Regions from separate parts of the Homo sapiens genome. Here all the other regions are linked to region 2. The links come from fine-mapping of genetic effects on gene expression. A gene starts in region 2. Each other region holds a variant in brackets. All regions are shown on one strand. Distances are from middle to middle.

Evidence for each region. PIP is the estimated chance that this variant, and not a neighbour inherited with it, causes the effect.
Region 1: its variant is the best candidate, but not a certain one, in a credible set for the expression of CFDP1 in thyroid (GTEx, PIP 0.55).
Region 3: its variant is the best candidate, but not a certain one, in a credible set for the expression of CFDP1 in visceral fat (GTEx, PIP 0.52).
Region 4: its variant is the best candidate, but not a certain one, in a credible set for the expression of CFDP1 in tibial artery (GTEx, PIP 0.75).

Annotation. Positions count from the first base shown.
Region 1 is chr16:75,293,045-75,297,884 of GRCh38, forward strand. CFDP1 (craniofacial development protein 1) reads right to left here. Exons shown (of 7, transcript NM_006324.3): 7 at 666-998. The coding sequence ends at 908. Among named protein-coding and RNA genes, the nearest start is that of BCAR1, 44 kb to the left of the region's middle. The variant A/G (reference allele first, on the strand shown) is at 2,158.
Region 2 is chr16:75,431,343-75,436,182 of GRCh38, forward strand. CFDP1 (craniofacial development protein 1) reads right to left here and starts at 2,161. Exons shown (of 7, transcript NM_006324.3): 1 at 1,947-2,161. The coding sequence starts at 2,010. It overlaps LOC124903723 (tigger transposable element-derived protein 1-like), which reads left to right and starts at 3,862. Exons shown (of 1, transcript XM_047435019.1): 1 at 3,862-4,840. The coding sequence starts at 3,960. The coding sequence ends at 4,757. RefSeq lists silencers at 141-340, 1,597-1,836 and enhancers at 2,147-2,656, 2,200-2,767.
Region 3 is chr16:75,369,250-75,374,089 of GRCh38, forward strand. All of the region lies in intron 5 of CFDP1 (craniofacial development protein 1), which reads right to left. Among named protein-coding and RNA genes, the nearest start is that of CFDP1, 62 kb to the right of the region's middle. The variant A/ATAAT (reference allele first, on the strand shown) is at 2,094.
Region 4 is chr16:75,306,835-75,311,674 of GRCh38, forward strand. All of the region lies in intron 5 of CFDP1 (craniofacial development protein 1), which reads right to left. Among named protein-coding and RNA genes, the nearest start is that of BCAR1, 58 kb to the left of the region's middle. RefSeq lists an enhancer at 804-1,304. The variant C/T (reference allele first, on the strand shown) is at 2,114.

The DNA.
Region 1 (4,840 bases), 140 kb before region 2:
ATGGTACTCGGGTAACACACATGCACATGCAGGCACACACACCAGAAGCAGGTTGTGGGGTTTCCCGCTTATTAATATGAATGGTCTCTATCCCTCTTTCCCTCTTCACTGAAGATGTTACTCTCTTACTCTCCTCCCTGCTGTTCTGCAAAGAATGTCTGACTCTAAGCAGGAAGTTTGAAATTTACATTTTCTTATGAGTATAAAAAAGAAAATCCTTCAGAATATTCTTTGACAAACTAAAAATTAATGAATTATTGAAGTGGGAGCATATCTGAATTTAACTTTTCTTTGGGAAGAGGAAAAAGGCTGAAGGGAAAAAACAGCTAATTCAGCAATAATATATCCTTATTTTCAGCCTTACATGCCATCAGTAGGAATCCATTCAGGAGAAAGAGAGATCAGAAGAGAAGCCCGAGTGGAAATGAGAACAAGCTGCGAAGGGGCCTGGCATTCCAGTCACTCTAGTGAGCCGCCTCCTCTAGGTCTTCGGGGCAAGGCTGGCTGCAGAAAGAGCCTCTTGGCCCCGGAAAATTCACACCCAGGTTGGTCAGCTATCTTCACCATGCCTGGCAAGACCTCTGCCAGCCTGGACAGACCTGGAATGTGCTGTCTTGAACTGGGTGGGACTTTGCGGCAGAATAAAGGGAAGGTGAGCGAGGTCGTCATCTTCATTATCCTCTCACAGGACCAACTTTTATTTTATTTATTCATTTAAGGACAAATTTTTAAAAGTAAAGTGAATGAAACCATTTGTGATTAAGATACATAGACAGAACTTCAATGTAGAAAAAAAAAAGACCTTGCTGGGAAACAGATGATGAGAAACACTGTAAAACATTTCACAGACGCACAAAAAGCTCACATTGTAAACAGGATTAAGCTGCTCTTGATTTAGCCCGTAACATCAAGGTTTCATTTTGCTCAGCCTGAGATCTCGCTCAATTTCAAACTGCCTGTGATCCACTCGGTCAAGGAAGGCTTTCCGTTCAATGTACCTAGAAGATGAAAACAGTGTTTGTCAGTAGAATCCAGTAGGAAAAACTCCTCCCCTGCACAGTCCCATCCCCCAGGGATAAACTAAGTTACAGTAAATGGTGCCGAGAGTGACCACCCATGACTCTTCCAGTACAATCCAAACCACTCACATTTGGTCTAAACAAGGATGGTGAAAATAAAAGGAAGGCAACAGCTTATCAATGAGAAAGTATATTAGAGGCTGGGTGGCAGGAAGATGTTGCAATTTTCTAACAAGACTTTAAGGGCAGAAGAAAGAATACCGGTTTACACAAGCATGGGTTCAAGTCCTAGCTCTAGCTCACTGATTAGCTGGGCAAAGGAATGAACATCTTTGAGCCTCACTTTTCTCTACAGCAGCATGGTGATGCTGTTTTTCTTGGCTTTAGTGGTGTGTTGAATTGGTGGGTAAGAGAAAGCTAGGCCTCCTGCATACATACATCAAAACATGAAAAGGGGGCATGTGGTAATGAAGGAAAGAAGACAGTAAAAATGACCTCACAGGACTGCAGTGAAGGTGAAGTGAGCTGAGGTTCATAAAGTGCACACTTTAGAAGTGATTTAACTGCTTTGAGCTCTTTTCTTCCCCTCATCCTTTTCTCCTCTCCGCAGTATCCTCCACCCTGTTTGCGTCTAGGTTGCTTCTGCTAAGATGACAGGAGAACTCTTTCCCTAAATGCCTCTAAGAGAATGAGTTTAAGGGCCTCTGATCTCTCCTTTCAAGGATCCCCTTGAAAGGTGGACACTCTGCTCCCTAATCTGGTTGGGTTCAGCAAACTTTCCCTCTGTCCTCCAGGCAGGACGGGAAAGCAGCAAGGGCTGAAGCACAGGCGCGCTTGCTAGGAGTGAGGCTGGCTGCTTAATGAGACACAGCTGCATCTTAATGCACCTCCTCACCATAAAGCGTGCTGCGATTTGCCTGGGCGGAGGAGATCTCTGCTGCTAATTAATCTATGGAGAGAGCAAAAATTGCCATGGAAAATGGGAGACAAAATTGAATCTCTGCACTAATTTTTCTTTTGTTGCACTGTGGAAAATATGCATCTGTCATTACAAAGTCATTACATTTATAGTGAGAATGCTACCAGGTTCAGAAACCTGTGTTCCCCTGCTGAGTCCAGGGCCTTGCTTTCCCTTCCA[A/G]CAGCATCCTAGGAAGTACCATCCATCCTACCTCATTTCCAGCTAGGCCTGACTACCCTGACCCTTCTGGAGGGCTGGCCAGAAATGTACAGGCTCTGAGGCCAGAGGGCTGGAGGTTTGAGTTCTGTCATTTGCTGTCTGTGACTCTGCAAGTCACTTAACCTTGCTAGTTCTGTTTCCTAATCTGTAATAAAGATAATAAATAATGGCTAGTCATCTCCACTCTGAAGGACTGTTGTGTGGATTAAATAAAATAGTGTCTACATCACACAGGGCACAGAGCAGGTACTCAATAAAATGACAGGTAATGTTATCATGGTTTTAGGAAGCCAGCTTCCAACAGGCTCCCAAGGACAGTAGATGGCCCAAGTCTGGACTTATGGTTTCAGCAATGAGGAACCAAAACACCTGGTCTGGCTCAGGTACTAAGCTGCTGTGTCAAAACCGTCAATGAGGCCAGAATGGCTGGAAACACAATGACAGGGCCTGCTCTTAGGTTTGATAAAAGCCCTTGGGGTCAGGATTGTCAGATTTAACAAATAAAATTACAGGCTGCCTGGCTGAATTCGAACTTCAGAGTCCCTGGCAGTCAGGGAAGCTGCAGACAGCATGGACCCCTTTAGATAAAAAGAGAAAAAGGGAAGACAGGTAGGGAAGTGTAGACATCTAACAACAAACTTACTTCCCACCTCCCACTAAGAGACCCGTGATTCTTGAGTGGGGGCTGCTAACCAAAATGGTCTCAGAGGCACGTTCACTACAACTGGTCATCTTTCCACCCCAGCCCCACCAGCCCAAGGGAGGCTCACTACCACGGGGACCAGGATTTTGACAGCACTGCACTTTAACTGTCCCCTGGAAGTGCTAGCAGAAAAAAGAGAGGTGAGCCTCAGCATGAGATCTTGCTGTGCTGTTGTTCACCTGGGGGTGTAAGAGGAATTTAGGGTGTGTTTCAAGAGCCATCTTCCAGTGCTACCTGTCTGGGAGATCAGGTGGAGGGAAGGAGTAAGTATGTGGCTTTAAGCATTTGGGGTCTTTCTTCCTGACTTTATTTTTTTAAGACAGGGTCTTGCTTTGTGGCTCAGGCTGGAGTGCAGTGGTGCACAGTTCACTGCAGCCTCGACCTCTCAGGCTCAAACAATCCTCCTGCTTCAGCCTCTCAGGTAGCTGGGACCACAGGCACACACCACCACACCTGGCTAATTTTAAATCTTTTGTAAAGATAGGGTCTCTCCATGTTGCCCATGCTGGTCTCGAACTCCTGGGCTCAAGCGATCCTCACCTTGGCCTCCCAAGTGCTAGGATTACAGGTGAGAGCCATCGGGCCCAGCCCTGACTTTCCTGTAAATAAGAAGTGACACTTAAATGAGGATGCTAACTGGGTACGAATAAAGGTCCTGCACGTTCCCAGAAGCTGTGTTGGGTCCAGCTGACTTTGAGACTATCAAGAGTGAAGCCCAGGTTGGGTGCTAAACAGGCAGGTGCAGTCAGAGTTTAGGTTTAGGGAGGCCTCAGGCAGCAGTGAGGGGAACATGTGCAGGATGCAACTGAATTCTCAAGGGCAACCCAGACAAAGGCCATCAAGGCAGGTCTGGTGACTATTCCCCAATTCACAGCCATCTGCAGCTGCTAACAGGATGCCTGTGACGGCCTTGGTTTACTGCCAAGAGCTGACCATGAACAAAACTACTTGATATGGACTCTCCCACTGCCAAGAGACAGAAAAGGTACTAAGAATGACAGTAGCTCTGACATTTAGTTTTTGTGTGACTTTGGGCAAGATACTTAATTTTCTGTGCCTTTTTTTCCTTCTCTGTAAAACAGAATAACAATTACAATAACCCTCTGGCAATCCAATGAAACTGTGAGAAGTGCTTTGTATACAATAAAACAAAAAATAGCTATGGGAGTTGTCATGGGCTTGGGGTTCTTGCTTCCCATTTCTTGTGTGTGTGTGTGTGTGTCTGTGTGTGTGTGTGTGTGTGTGTGTGTGTTTTTAGTAGAGATGGGGTTTTGCCATGTTGGTCAGGCTGGTCTTGAACTCCTGGCCTCAAGTAATCTGCCCGCCTCAGCCTCCCGAAGTGCTGGGATTACAGGCGTGAGCCACTCTGCCCGGTCTTGCTTCACATTTCTTCTGACTTGACTTTACCTCTACAGAACCTCAAAACCCAGGGCAACCGGAACAGAGACCAAGAGACTAAATGTCCCTGAAAGAGGAAGGGCTCATTAGAAAGGCCACCTCCTCAAAGGTGGCCACTGAGACTCAGGACATTTTCATGCACTTTAAATGGGTCACGGTCCCAGAACAGACCCACCTGAGGACAAGTGCAATGGGAATCACGGCTCTTGCTCTTGATGTGTCCGGGTGCTTTTCTGGCCTGTGCGCAGCCCTTTTGGGGGCCCAGCATGACTCAGCCCAGTCCACAGGGAAGCCTAGTGGTGGGGGATGCATCATCCCTTTCTGCTTCCATTGCCTTCTGTGGCCCATTTAAGAGGCTCTTCACTTTCTTTAATAAAATATGCTAAGAACCTAAGGGATTTTCTAGTTTTTCCTTTTAGAACCAGGTTAGGCACAACAGGCTCTGACATCTTTTGAATCTTCCAACCCAAATTATTTATCTGCCACCAATTTCCCTGAGATCTAGGCCAATGAAAAGGGAGGGAGAAATGGAAGCAGAGGACA
Region 2 (4,840 bases):
ACTCAGGAGGCTGAGGCAAGAGAATGGCGTGAACCCGGGAGGCAGAGCTTGCAGTGAGACGAGATCCCGCTACTGCACTCCAGCCTGGGAGACAGAGCAAAACTCTTGTCTCAAAAAAAAAAAAAAAAAAAAAAAGAAAAGAAAAGAAAATCGATCGGGTGTGCTGGCGGGCGCCTGTAATCCCACCTACTTAGGAGGCTGAGGCAGAACTGCTTGAACCGGGAAGGCAGAGGCCGCATTAAGCAGAGACTGTGCCACTGCACTCCAGCCTGAGCCACAGAGCGAGACACTGTCTCGAAAGAAAAAAAAACACTGAATACTGATCTAACTAAAACTGGACACAGGTTCAACGGCAGACTACGGAGTTGGGGAGGCCCCGAAGGTGGAAGTGTTTGTGTGTGTGTTTGGGATGAGGGGAAGGAGGTCAGGGGCTACTAAAAATGATACCTACTATACATGGGTTAAATCAATAGACAACAGAAATATAATACCAAATTCAAAAGGTGGAAAGAAGTTTCTCCTGAGGAATATTAAATAAAATAGGGATGAGGGTGATGGGACTGGCTAACTTTTTTTTTTTTTTTTTTGAGACGGAGTCTCGCTCTGTCACCCAGGCTGGAGTGCAGTGGTGTGATCTCGGCTCACTGCAACCTCCACCTCCCGAGTTCAAGCGATTCTCCTGCTCCAGCCTCCTGAGGAGCTGGGACTACAGGCGCGTGCCACCATGCCCAGCTAATTTTTGTGTTTTTAGTACAGACGGGGTTTTACCATGTTGTCCAGGATGGTCTCGATCTCCAGACCTTGTGATCCACCCACCTCAGCCTCCCAAAGTGTTGGGATTACAAGCATGAGCCACCGCGCCAGGAATGGAATGGCTAGTTTTCAACGTGCCTTTTAGAAATACTTCACTAGCCGGGGCGCGGTGGCTCATGCCTGTAATCCCAGCACTTTGGGTGGCTGAGGTGGGAGGATCACTTGAGCCCACGAGTTCGAGACCAGCCTGGGCAACATAGCAAGATGCCATTTCTAAAAAAAAAAAAAAAAAAAAAAATTTAAAAAATTAGCGGGCGTGGCAGCCTGCACCTGCAGTCCCAGCTACTCCAGAGGCTGAGACGGGAGGATCGCTTGAGCCCAGGAGTCTGAGGTTGCAGTGAGCCAAGATCGCATCACTGCACTCCAGCCTAGACAACAGCAAGACCCTGTCTTTAAATAAAACAGAACAGAACAAAGTAAAACAAAGAGAATAGGGACGACTCCTGGGTTGTGTTTTGTTAGTCTGTTTGTTTCTTGTTTGTCTAGTCTTTCAACTGAAGATGTGAATGGGTGAAGATACTTTCAACGAGACGGTTTGTCTGGGGAAGACCAAGAAGGGGGAACAGAAAGATTTCTTCAGTAAGATTCATTCTCACCCCGTTCGGGTTGAGATCCCTAAGGAAAGAAAGTTCTGAGAGGAGAGGATGGGTGGACGTCACAATGAGGCAAAAAGCATCAAAGGGGGAACTTTCTATCAGAACTTTCTAACAACCAGGCGGAGAGCGGACAGCTCTATCTTGGACGGGGTGGTGGCCAGCAGCTCTCTCGGGCCAGGGCTGAAAAAAACCTCCAAGGCTCGGACTGCCGCCCCGACTTCTGAAGCAGCGGTGTCGTTCGGGGCTGACCGACGAGCGTCCCTAGCGACAAGGGGCCGTGTCCATGTGCCGGTTCCCGCGCTGCAAGAGGGGGCGGCGGCCGGAGCTGCCCAACGGGAGGGGAGCACAGAACCGCCACGCGCACACGCCTCGGGCCGGAGCGGCCGAGGATGAGGGGCCTGAGGGAGCGGACGCTCGAGAACAGGAGCCCCCCTGGACCACCTGGGCCACAGGGCAGACGCCCGCGGGGGCAGAGCGCGCCTCACGTGAGGCGTGGGGCGGGGCAATTCGCTTCTCGCCTCAGGCGGAATCGCTCACCCGACGGCACGTAGTCCTCGTCCTCCTCCGACGTAGAGAAGTCTTCGGAGTCGAATTCCTCCATGTTGCTGCCGCTCGACGCTGGTCAAACTCACAAGACCGCAGCAGCCGCCTCCAACGGCAAAGCTCTAGGGAGAGACCATAGAGCCCCGGCGGCGGCGACGGCAGCTAGGGCGGCCCCCGACAGCGCTTTGCACATGCGCAGAGAGTACTACGTGGTTGCCCTACGACACTTCCGGCCGATGCCTCCGGGCTGGCGTCCCTGAAGCCCTCGCTGGGAGCCCGAACCCGCCCGGACGCGGTGCATGCTGGAACTTGTAGTCTTCGGCGCTGCCTCGCCGCCTTAATATAATAAACCTGCTTAAATAAAATTACATATCTATGGAAATACAGGTGACCTTCATTAATCATTAATTCGTAATGCCAAATTCACTTACTTGCTAAAATGTATTTGTAACCCTAAAATCAATCATCACGGTACTGTCTGGGGTTCTTCCCGGGCATGCGCAGAGGGTGAAAATTTGGAGTTGGCGGAGGTAAGGTTCCCAGCTGAAGTTTGAACTGGGAGAAGCGCCGCCTTCTAGTCGCAGCTCCTGTGCTGTAAACAAAGAGTCCTTTCCGCAGTCTGTTTACTGACACTTTTTTTTCTGCTTTTTGTGGGTGGTTTTGCTTTCTAAAATGGCCCCCAAGCGTAGTGCTTAAGCTCTGCCCAGTGTTCCTAAGCGAAAGAAGACCGTGATGTGCCTTACGGAGAAAGTCCGCGTGTTGGATAAGCTCCAATCAGGCATGAGTTACAGTGCTGTTGGCCATGAGCTCAATGTTAACGAGTCGACAATCCGGTACATCAAGAAAAAGGAAAAGGAAATTCACCGATCTGTCCGTGAGGCCGCTCCGGATAGTGCTGAAGTGACCTCCATCGTGCGTGATGAAGCTATGACAAAGATGGAAAAGATGGAAAAGCGGCTAAATTTGTGGATTCATGAGATGTCAATCGATTAAAAAAAACATAGTGGACAGCATTGTGGTGAGGCTGAAAGCCAAAGATATCTGTGGTCACGTTACCCAGAGTCAAAGAAATGCTAAGCCCTTCTCGGCGAGTGCTGGCCGGCTCGCGCGTTTCAAAAGGCGATACGGGGTGAAAAATGTTAAACTTGCAGGTGAGGCGAGCTCTGCAGATCAGGAGGCTGCGGAAGAATTTTAAAAATACTTGCTAAGTGTTATACAGGAAAAGGGTTATGTGAAAGAGCAGGTTTTCAATGCGGATGAGACTGGCTTATTTTACAAGGATGTTGGCAAACGAACCTATATAATGCAAACGGCCTCCAAAGCCCCTGGCTTTAAATCATGCCAGGATCATGCACCCTTGTTATTGTGCGCCAATGCCAAGAGCGACTAAAGTGCAAACTCCTAATGGTGTAAAGAACCCAAAATCCACAAGCACTTAACGGGAAATACGTGAACCATCTGCCAGTCTATTGGAGGTGGAACAAAAAAGTGTGGATGATGTCTGATTGGTTCCACAACTGCTTCATCCCAGAAGCTGAACACTGTCTCCAGGGCAGAAACCTTGCCTTCAAGGGTTTTTTGTTTTGTTTTGTTTTGTTTTTTGTTTGTTTGGGTTTGTTTTGTTTTGGTTTGGTTTTGAAACGGAGTCTCGCTCTGTCGCCCAGGCTGGAGTGCAGTGGCGCAATCTCGGCTCACTGCAAGCTCCGCCTCCCGGGTTCACGTCATTCTCCTGCCTCAGCCTCCCGAGTAGCTGGGACTACAGGCGTCCACTACCACGCCTGGATAATTTTTTGTATTTTCAGTAGAGACGGGGTTTCACCGTGTTAGCCAGGATGGTCTTGATCTCCTGACCTCATGATCCGCCTGCCTCGGCCTCCCAAAGTGTTGGGATTACAGGCGTGAGCCACCGCGCCGGGCACCTTCAAGGTTTTGTTAATTTTGGATAATGCTACAATCCATTGCTGCAAAGAACTCGAAAATGCACACGCCAACATAGGAGTTCTTTTTATGCCCCCAAACACTAAGTCTCTCATCCAACCCCTCAATCGGGGCATAATAAAAGCATTCAAGGCACACTACACAAGGGAGCTTTATATGAAGGCCTGTGAGGCTCTCAGGACCAACAAGGAAACCACCATGCTGGACTATTGGAAGTCGGTCACTACATGCAACGTTATTGATTATGTCAGTACAGCCTGGGAGAGCATTGGTCAGGCTACTACCAATAACTGTTGGGAAAATGTTTGGCCAGACTGCGTGGAGAATTTTGAAGGGTTTGAAGGTGTTACAGAAAATATAAAGAACACTGTCAGAGACATAATGCATATGGCACAGCAGGTAAGTGGAGAGGGCTTTGATGACGTGAAGGAAGGAGATGTGGAGTACATTTTGGCAGAGAAGGCAGTGGAACCAACCAACGAAGACCTGGATGAGATGGCAAAAGAAGGCATTGGAGTTGATGGCCATGAAAGTCGGCCCAAGACTTCCAGAATTGTCCCTCTCACAGCGCCAAAATATCAGAATGGAGTTCTGCCTTGGAAAAAATTTTTAGCGACATGGAAGAGTGTGACCCTACGCTTGATCGAAGCCTCAAATTTAAATGGCTGGCCTCCACTGCGTTTGCCCCTTATACCGAGATGCTTAAAGATTTCAGGCAGAAAAGCCAGGCAGGCAAGGCTAATGCAATTTCTCAAGCCAGTTTGGGAGGGAAGATTGCCCACTCCTTCAACAAGTGTCAAGAGCCAGACTCCTAAGGTAGAAATGCCAGAGGTTGACCTGCCACCCTCTTCCTCTTCTGCAGAATAAATTTCACTCACCCCTCCCCTGGTTTCTGTGGGGCAAGCCAAGGTCGAGAGGTTTAACCACATTGTGCAGCTCCATCAACCGTA
Region 3 (4,840 bases), 62 kb before region 2:
AGCTTAAAATACATATTGCAGGCCAGGCGCAGTAGCTCATGCCTGTAATCCAAGCACTTTAGGAGGTCAAGGCAGTATTGCTTGAGCCCAGGAGTTCAAGACTAGCCTTAGCAATATAGCAAAAGTTCGCTTCAAAAAAAACAAAAACAAAACAACCCACAAAAAAACAAAAAGCCAAAAAACCCGCACACTGCTATACAGAATTCTAGCTAGATGCAGGCTTCTGCTTTAACTATTATATACATTTAGACACATGGCTTCGCAGTAGGTTGCCTATTTATTCTCCAATAATCTAAACAGTGTATTGACAGAGACGTATGTGTCCACACTTGTTTCTTCTGATGAAACTGGAAAAGCAATTTGCAAATCTGTCTACCAGAAACAAAGAAAACTAAGTAAGACCAGATTATTCTCTAGTGCTCAGAGTCTCAACAGCAGGTTAAGGAACCAGAGTTTCCAAACTGGCCTCCTTTTGTTTGACCAACACTTTACTTACTTACTTACTGTATTTATTTGTTTATGAGACAGAGTCTCACTGTGTCACCCAGGCTGGAGTGCAGTGAAGCGATCTTGGCTCACTAAAACCTCCGCCTCCCAGGTTCACGTTCAAGCGATTCTCATGCCACAGCCTCCCCAGTGGCTGGAACTACAGGCCTGCACCACCAAGCTCAGCTAATTTTTGTATTATTATTATTATTATTTTTAGTAGAGACAGGGTTTCACCATGTCGTCCAGGCTGGTCTCAAACTCCTTACCTCAAGTGATCTGCCCACCTCGGCTCTCAAAGTGTTGGGATTACAGGCGTGAGCCACCATGCCTGGCCTTGAATTTTTTCTATTATTTATTACTTTTTTTTTTTTGAGGCAGAGTTTCGCTCTTGTTGCCCAGGCTGGAGTGCAATGGTGTAATCTTGGCTCACTGCAACCTCTGCCTCCCAGGTTCAAGTGATTCTCCTGCCTTGGCCTCCCAAGTAACTGGGATTACAGGTGCCTGCCACCACACCCAGCTAATTTTTGTATTTTTAGTAGAGATGGGGTTTCGCCATGTTGGCCAGGCTGGTCTCGAACTCCTGACCTCAGGTGATCCACTGACCTTGGCCTCCCAAAGTGCTGGGATTACCAACGTGAGCCACCACGCTCGGCCAAATTTTTTCTATTTTAAAAATAATGTGGAGGGAGGAATAGCATTAGGAGATATACCTAATGTAAATGATGAGTTGATGGGTGCAGCACACCAACATGGCACATGTATACATATGTAACAAACCTGCACGTTGTGCACATGTACCCTAGAACTTAAAGTATAATAAAATAATAATAATAATAATGTGTGGCAGGGTGCAGTAGCTGACGCCTGTAATCCCAGCACTTTAGGAGGCTGAGGAGGGCGGATCACCTGAGGTCAGGAGTTCCAGACCATTCTGGCCAACATGGCAAAACCCCGTCTCTACTAAACATACAAAAATTAGCTGGTGTGGTGGCATGTGCCTGTAATCCCAGCTACTTGGGAAGCTGAGGCACAAGAATCGCTTGAACCCAGCAGGCAGAGGCTGCAATGAGCCAAGATCATACCACTGCACTCCAGCCTGGGTGACAGAGCAAGACTGTCTCAAAAATTTAAAAAAAGAATTAAAAAAAACTTAAAGATCCATTTGCAGAAATCAACTCACTTGCAAAAGGACTTGCTTACTACAAAATTCAGGTTGGGATCTATCTCACTTTGTTAGTTTATTCATTTATCAAATATGCCCTATATGAGCATATACTGTGCCAAGTGCAGAAAAAAGCCAATTCCAGAATTGTAAAAAACAAACTATCACATGTTCATGTGGACTTCACTGTAGTGTTCCGCAGGGTTTCTTAACTTGGGAACTACTAACATTTTGAATAAGCCAATTCTTTGTTTCGAGCTGTCCTTTGTACCGCAGGATGTTTAGCAGCATCTCAAACTTTTTACCCTCTAAATGCCAGTAGCATCCCCTGCCTTGCCCAGGTTATACAACCAGAAATGTCTCTAGACACTGCCAAAAGTCCCCTAGGACAAATACAAGTTAAAACATTTTAAGTAATGTCAACATAATATGATACAATTTC[A/ATAAT]TAATTATATATCTCTCTCTAAAGATGATTAAACACTGGCTAATGTCTTAAGTAAATAAAACTGTGGAGATTAAAATAGTGATGTCAAAGCAGATTAAGAAACCTGAATGGGGGGCGAGGTTAAAAAAACTGAACAAAGTTCTTATATATTCAAATGTTTTTTAAAAACTAACCTTAAGCGTTTTGGTTAAGCTTCCTTTGTAGTTGGGAAATTCCTGTTCTGCTAATTCAGGCTCTTTTCTAAAAACAGGTTTATATATTTTAGTACATAAAAATATTACTATAGCCTAACATTCATAGGAAGAATCTCTTGGTCTTTTCTGAGAACCTCTCAAGTGTTTTGTTACATATTAGAATAATCAGAGGAAAGAAAAGTAAGTGAATTTCAGTCTTGGTGTATTCTCCTCCAACTCAAAGGTTTCATTTAGTAGGAAGAGGATGAAAATGTTGATTAAATCTATATACGTTTTTAATAGTTTTAAGTTTCATTTATTTGTTAAGTCTACTGTTTCCTTGATGATTTTATAATTTCCTTGTCCTAATACGAACTAGTAAGTGAAGATCAACCTTGTTATTTAAAATAGGGAAAAGGGAAAAACTACTAATTTTCATTGAGTCCTTCTGTGCCAGGAACTGTAGTGACACCTTATCTCATTTCATTCTCAAAACAGCTCTATGAAGTAGGAATTATGATCCCTATTTTACAGCTAAAAGAATTAAGTAAAACTATTATTTGCACCAGGCAATCCTGTTCAAGTCAAAAGCATATATAATACTCTACCTATTTCTAAAAAAGGAGCCAGCAATAACCATGACAGCTTTCTCTTCCCTATACTGTAAAATATAAGAAGTCCAAAGTAATAGCTATAAGAAGGGTTTTAATCTGAAGAGTTTGACAGAGAACTAAGAATCCCCAAATAATCAAAAAGAAAAACTCATCACATCTAGTGGTAACAAAATTCGGATATATATGGTTTTCATATCTGTTCATGAATAACTCAACAATGGGCAGCAAAAACACACCCACAATTTCAAGACTCTGGCCAGGAGTGCTGACCAGCCTCAATAAAATGTCAGCTTGCTGCCAAAGGATCCAGATCAGTGGAATTGTCCAGTTCTCTAAGGAGACAATGCAGAGTTGCCTGCAGACTGGTTCTGAAATCGAACCAGAACTAGAACTTAAAAACAAAAAGCAGATCAATCTCTAGGCATCAAATTTCTTCTTCCTGAAAGAATAAACAGAAAACCTAAGTGAGTTATTCTAGCTGTACCTCAATCCAGGGTTTAGTCTGGAAGCCAATCTACTTGCTCAACTGTTTGCAAAGTTCATTCAACTCTTCCTCCCAGGTTTTGTTTCATGAGAGAAAAATAAAACCATCATCTTTTGGCAAGATGGAGTATTAACTTTTCTCCTGGTATTGCTGTCACTCACAGTTAAAAGAAAATGCACGCACACACAAATACATACCCTTTAAATGTCTAATTTAAATCCTAAATAACCCAGAGTACATGTGAGGGAGGAGAAAATAAAAGCCTTAGCAAGGAATATTTTAGTTCCAAAATTCTAAAGGCAAACTGCTAACTGAAAAGGGAAATTAACTTTATCAACTGTAAAAGAAAAAAATTCAACATCTTGTTGTTTTAAAGGAGTTCCCCGGCATGGAAGCAGATCATACACTTGATTCCTGATGCAGGAACTGAAACAACTCTGGCCCAGAGATAAAAGGGTGACAATTTGCTTGACACACCTATGCTGGAGCAGCTACTCCCATCTGTCTACTTTCCCTCCTTCCCCTAAAAGCTACTTAAGTCTCGGTTTATCCAGTTACATGTGCTAAGTGAAAAGAAGGCATAATTCCCAAGCCACGTTTTTGGAAATAACATGGTGACCCATTTCAACACTTACACACACAGATGTTAAATTAGCCAAAGTATATTTAAATAATCTCATCTCATTCATTCTTGCTAATGCTCATAGATTCATTATCGTATTGGACTTTCTTCCCACAAAATGACTGGCCTTATACCAAGTTTTATAAATATTAAAAAGGTTGTTTTGTACTAAAAAAGAAAATAACTGGAGGAGAGGGAAGCTTCTCAAAAGAACTTTCACATGGTGGGTAATATAAATGTCGCTAAGATAAGATACACAACGCTGGATTCTTTTTCTCTGTGACCCCTGCCCACCCCCCATTCTACCTAAACTCACTGTGTAACTAATCATGAACAAAAGAGAGGCACAGTTTGAATTTCAGCTAGAGATACACACTGTATTCAAAGGGTTTGCTTCCCTAAAGACTGTATTCTTTTTATTTTTATTTATTTATTTTGGTATGAACGGGGTCTCCCTATGTTGCCCTGGCTGGTCTGAAACTCCTGGCTACAAGACTGTATTCTGCTCTAGATACGAAGCCATTTTGTCCTTTACAAGGGAAGCCTTGACTTCCTCTACACAATTTACTAATCCTAATTGTAATAAGCATTTCCATTTGAGAAAAAAATTCTGGTAGGAATTGTATCATCTTTCTAAACATGAGGCAATCTTTACAAACATACTGTTTCTCAGAAAGAAAATGATAAAAAACCTAAATGTCTGTATAGGGAGTTAGTTTTGAAAATTATAGAACTGGCCAGGCACGGTGGCTCACACCTGTAATCCCAGCACTTTGGGAGGCCAAACCAGGTGGATCACCTGAGGTAAGGAGTTCAAGACAAGCCTGGCCAACATGACGAAATCCCATCTCTAC
Region 4 (4,840 bases), 120 kb before region 2:
TTCCAGACAACTCAACCCCTACAATGTCATATGTGCGCGTGATCACACACACACACACACACACACACGCACACACACACACTTTCTTTTTCACCATTTTACCAGGAACGGAGCATGAGTGGGGATATGGAAACTTACTGTGTCTCAAATCTTTTTCCTTCTCATCTTCCTTACTGCTACTGCCCGAATTCTCATTCTTATATCACCTGGATAATTGAACAGCCTCTTTACTGGTCTCCCTGACCTGTTTTTCCCCATCCTCACTCAGTGGCCCTATCCTGGTATCTAGTGACATGCTGTAATTAGACTGAATTTTCCAAAACACAAAGCTTAGCATGTCTTTCTGCTTAAATGTCTCTTCACTGACCCCTTTTTATTTTTATTTATTTTTATTTTTTGAGACGGAGTTTCTCTCTTGTTGCCCAGGCTGGAGTGCAGATGCGTGATCTCGGCTCACTGCAACCTCCGCCTCCCGGGTTCAAGCGATTCTCCTGTCTCAGCCTCCCAAGTAGCTGGGATTACAGGCGCCTGCCACCACACCTGGCTAATTTTTTGTATTTTTAGTAGAGACGGGGTTTTGCCATGTTGGGCAGGCTGGTCTCAAACTCCTGACCTCGGGTGATCTGCCCACCTCGGCCCCCCAAAGTGCTGGGATTACAGGTGTGAGCCACTGCGCCCAGGCCCACTGACCCCTTTTTAAAACATAATAATTAAAATAAATTTTTATGTATTTACTTTTTTAGAGACAGGTTCTCACTCTGTTACCCAGGCTAGAGTACACCAGTGAAACCACAGCTTACTACAGCCTCAACCTCCCTGGGTCAAGTGATCCTCCCACCTCAGTCTCCTGAGGTGCAGAGACTACAGGTGTGTGCCACCACGTTCAACTATCTTTTTTATGTTTTGTAGAGACAGGGTCTTGCTATGTTGCCCAAGGCTGGTATCAAACTCTTGGACTCAAGCAATCCTCCTGCCTTGGCCTCCCGAAGTACTGGGATTATAGGCACAAGCCACCATATTAAGCCTTATCTCAGCTTTAAAACCACTTCCTCCAGGAAGCCTTCCCTAACCTCTAGATTAGGTGTCCCTGGTGGTATTTCTATCATACCAGTTCTTTTCATATGGGAACACTGATCTTTTCTTTAGATGCTTGTGAACTCTTATTTCAGCTGCAGCTGCACTAGATGGTTCTGGGCAAGTGCAGACTCACTGTTGACAACACCCCACCAAAAGCATACGCATGAGGACTTTCCATTTCTGGCTGCAGGGTCTCCTCTGAGCCTGCCTGCATGCCACAAGTACTGCCTGGACAGGTGGTGGAGCTCAAGCCATTGGGGCTAGCCTGAAGGAACACAAAAGCTGGTGGTTAAACGGCCAGCCTCCTACCCTCACAAGGTAGCTATAGGAGGTGGAATGCTTCTCAGAAGTTCTGGTGGCATCAAGCCCTCGTGGCCTTGGAATTGTACTCTTATATTGACTTTTCCTCCTTCCTTGTCTCATTCTTTCCACCACTCACACCTGCTTCCTGGGATCACTTCCCAAATAAACTCCCTGCACTCAAAATCCTTGTCTTATGTTCTGCTTTGAGGGGACTCTAACTAAGGATTTTAGGAGAAAAATTATTTTCCTCGTGTAATCTTTATCTTTCTGTGGCTATTTAAGTTCCTGTGTCTCCAAACCTCTCTACCCATTGATAGAGTTCTGTGAACAGTGAGCACTCAATTAAGTCAACAACGTCACCTGGATTACAGAACCAATTCATGGAAGAGAATCAGATATTCGCAGAACTAAGTATTCTTTAGAGCGCTTCTACACTGGAGATTTTAAGGGGAACAATTCACTTTTATTCTCCCATCAGCTCTCAACAGCCCAAGGTTCCCCATTTAATTTGGGCAGCACCACAAGCTATGTACGCCACCTCTCCCCTTCAGCCTACAGCTCCAGTGGTATTCCTGGGTGAGGCCATCTTATTGACGAATTACTTTGAGAAGTCTATGAGAAACTTGATTTTTTGATGCACAGCAGTGAGGTTTCCAGAAAAGGAAAAAAACCATAATACCCCTTTGCCTTGCTCACCATTAAACATCAGTAAAATGTCACCTGTGCTATTATG[C/T]TTTTGGGGAAGGCTTCCAACTCTCCTTTCACTGGGTCATTAACAAGGTGTAAGATGTCCTAATGTGATAGTCTCTAAAGCAAAATAATCTGTCTTTTATTTGAGGCTAAATCAAAGTGAATGACACACTGATAGCAGCAGCCAGAACACACAGGGGGCTCATGATAACCAGGAGACCAGCAGCTTCTTCCTAGAACCTGTTTGTGGGCTCCCTCAGGGTTCTGAGCCCTCCCACTCACTCTCCCACCCTGAGAGGGGTTTCAGTGTCCTAATCCTGGTGTCATTTCAGCACAGCTTTCAGAAAGGCAGATTTACTGTGACCTTGCCGCTTTCTCTGCCACAAAGGTACATGAACCAGGCTTTCAGGAAGCCGAGGCGGGAGAGAATCAGTCTCTGGGCAGGGGGCGCTGACCCTATTCTGAGAAAGAACACAGAAAAGCCTACTTCAGCCACGCACCTCCGAGAACTATGGCTAGCAGGGGACAAATCAGCACTGGCTCTCCAGGCATCTGGCAGCTGTGTATATTGGAAAACTGTAGAATGGGGAAGTCAGAATTCCCTTGGAGATTTGTTTTCATCAAGAACCAATCCAACCGGGCGCTGTGGCTCATGCCTGTAATCCCAGCACTTTGGGAAGCCGAGGCGGGCGGATCACAAGGTCAGGAGATCGAGACCATCCTGCCTAACACGGTGAAACCCCGTCTCTACTAAAAATACAAAAAATTAGCCGGGCGTGGTGGCAGGCGCCTGTAGTCCCAGTTACTTGGGAGGCTGAGGCAGGAGAATGGCGTGAACCCAGGAGGCGGAGCTTGCAGTGAGCCAAGATCATGCCACTGCACTCCAGCCTGGGTGACAGAGTGAGACTCCATCTCAAAAAAAAAAAAAAAAAAAAAAAAAACCAATCCAGTTCCAGACCAACAGAACCACTGGTTTCTTTGTTCTTTATCCTAAGCCATAGGGCAAGGTACTGCCAGAAAGTCTGCTTTAACAGACCACTCTCCAGACAACAGTACTTCATTGAGTCAAGAGACTCCTCACCCACCTGTTGCAAGTCAAAGTTCAAAGAAATGCACCATGCACTTGCTCACCCAGATTACATCCCAAATGTTACGCTGAGGCATTCTGGAATGTTATTACCAAGATGTTTCCAATGTCACAATGACATTGCAACCACCTCCTCCTGAACATCACATGACTTTGTTGACCTTACTACCATAAATTTGATGTAAAGACTAATACTGTTCAAGGAGTGTGGACTTTGCTCTCACCAGCCAGCTTCCATGCCATAAGAGAGAGTGGCTGAGTGCAGCTCATACTGGTGAAAGAGACACTTATTTTCCAAGCTTATCTTTCTTGCATATTTTGTTCAGTTATCCATCAATCAGCAATTATCAACTCCCTTCCCACCATGCCAAACCAAGACCTATCATAACACCAGACACCAACCAAGACCTTGATTAAGAAACTCAGAAAAGTAAAAGAGACACAGAATGTAAAATGACAAGTCATCTTTTTCTTTTCTAGGTTCAAAGTTTATAATGATAATTTTCTAGAACTTATTCTGCTTCTCTTTAGCAAAAGAAATGTAATTTTAACAAAAATGTCATTGTAACTAAACAATAAACTTCATCCTGTTGAGTCTGTCACAGAGATATTATGGTAACTTGTTTACTTTGTTCCATGTCCACCAGCATTGACTTGGATTTGTCCAACCGATTTATTTTGTAGCAAGAGCACTGTTCTATCTGACCACCCTCAGCAATGCCCGGGATCCTGCTGTTTGTTTAAAAGAGGTACTGGAAAGGAGCTGGGAGAGTAACTTGCCAAGTGGAAAGGCTGACAGGGCTTACCAACTGTTTGTGAAGGATGGTAGAAGATCTTTCCCGGAGATCTTTAAAATCATCCCCAGGTACCCAGCTGTTTCACAGAATAGAATTTTAGCTTTGGAAAGGAATTCAGAGTCATTCATTCATTGCATTCATTCAACAGAGATTACTGAGAACTTACTCTCTACCAGACACTGTGCTCAGAATGGGGATATAAAAATATACAAAGCTTAATTTTCGGCTTCAAAACAAAAATCTAGTGGAGGACAGATCAACATACAGGCAAACTGTAACCACATATTATGAGGGCACAAAAGAAGAGCTGAAGGGATGTTTAGTCCAACCTCCTTATTTTATAGATCAGTCAACTAAACTCCAAAAGGTTAAGAAACCTGCCCAAGTTTATAGCAGGAGACTTGGGGTTAGTACTCAGTGCTTTTGATGCCCAGACTACTGTCTTTTCCACCTTGCTTGGTGCTAGATTTAAGTCCAAGTAGCTGGGACTATAGACATATGTCACCAAACCCAGATAATTTAAAAAACGTCTTTGTACAGACAGGGATCTTGCTATTTTGCCCAGGCTGGTCTCGAACTCCTGGCCTCAATCATCCCACTTTGGCCTCTCAAAGTGCTGGGATTACAGGTGTGAGCCACTATGCCCAATCTACTACATTTTTAATGTACTAAATCCTCATTATTTGACAATGGACTTACCCAAACACTTTTTCTCATAACAAAATATTCAACACTACACTTGAACTGACAGACCAGTACCAAAAGTGGACCAGCAAGGATAGGGTTAACATGTGTACAGAAGCACCACTGATCTTTAATCCAAACTTCAACACGTGAAGGCTGGATTAAGTCTATGCCTTCCATCTAATAGCCTGCATAATCACTA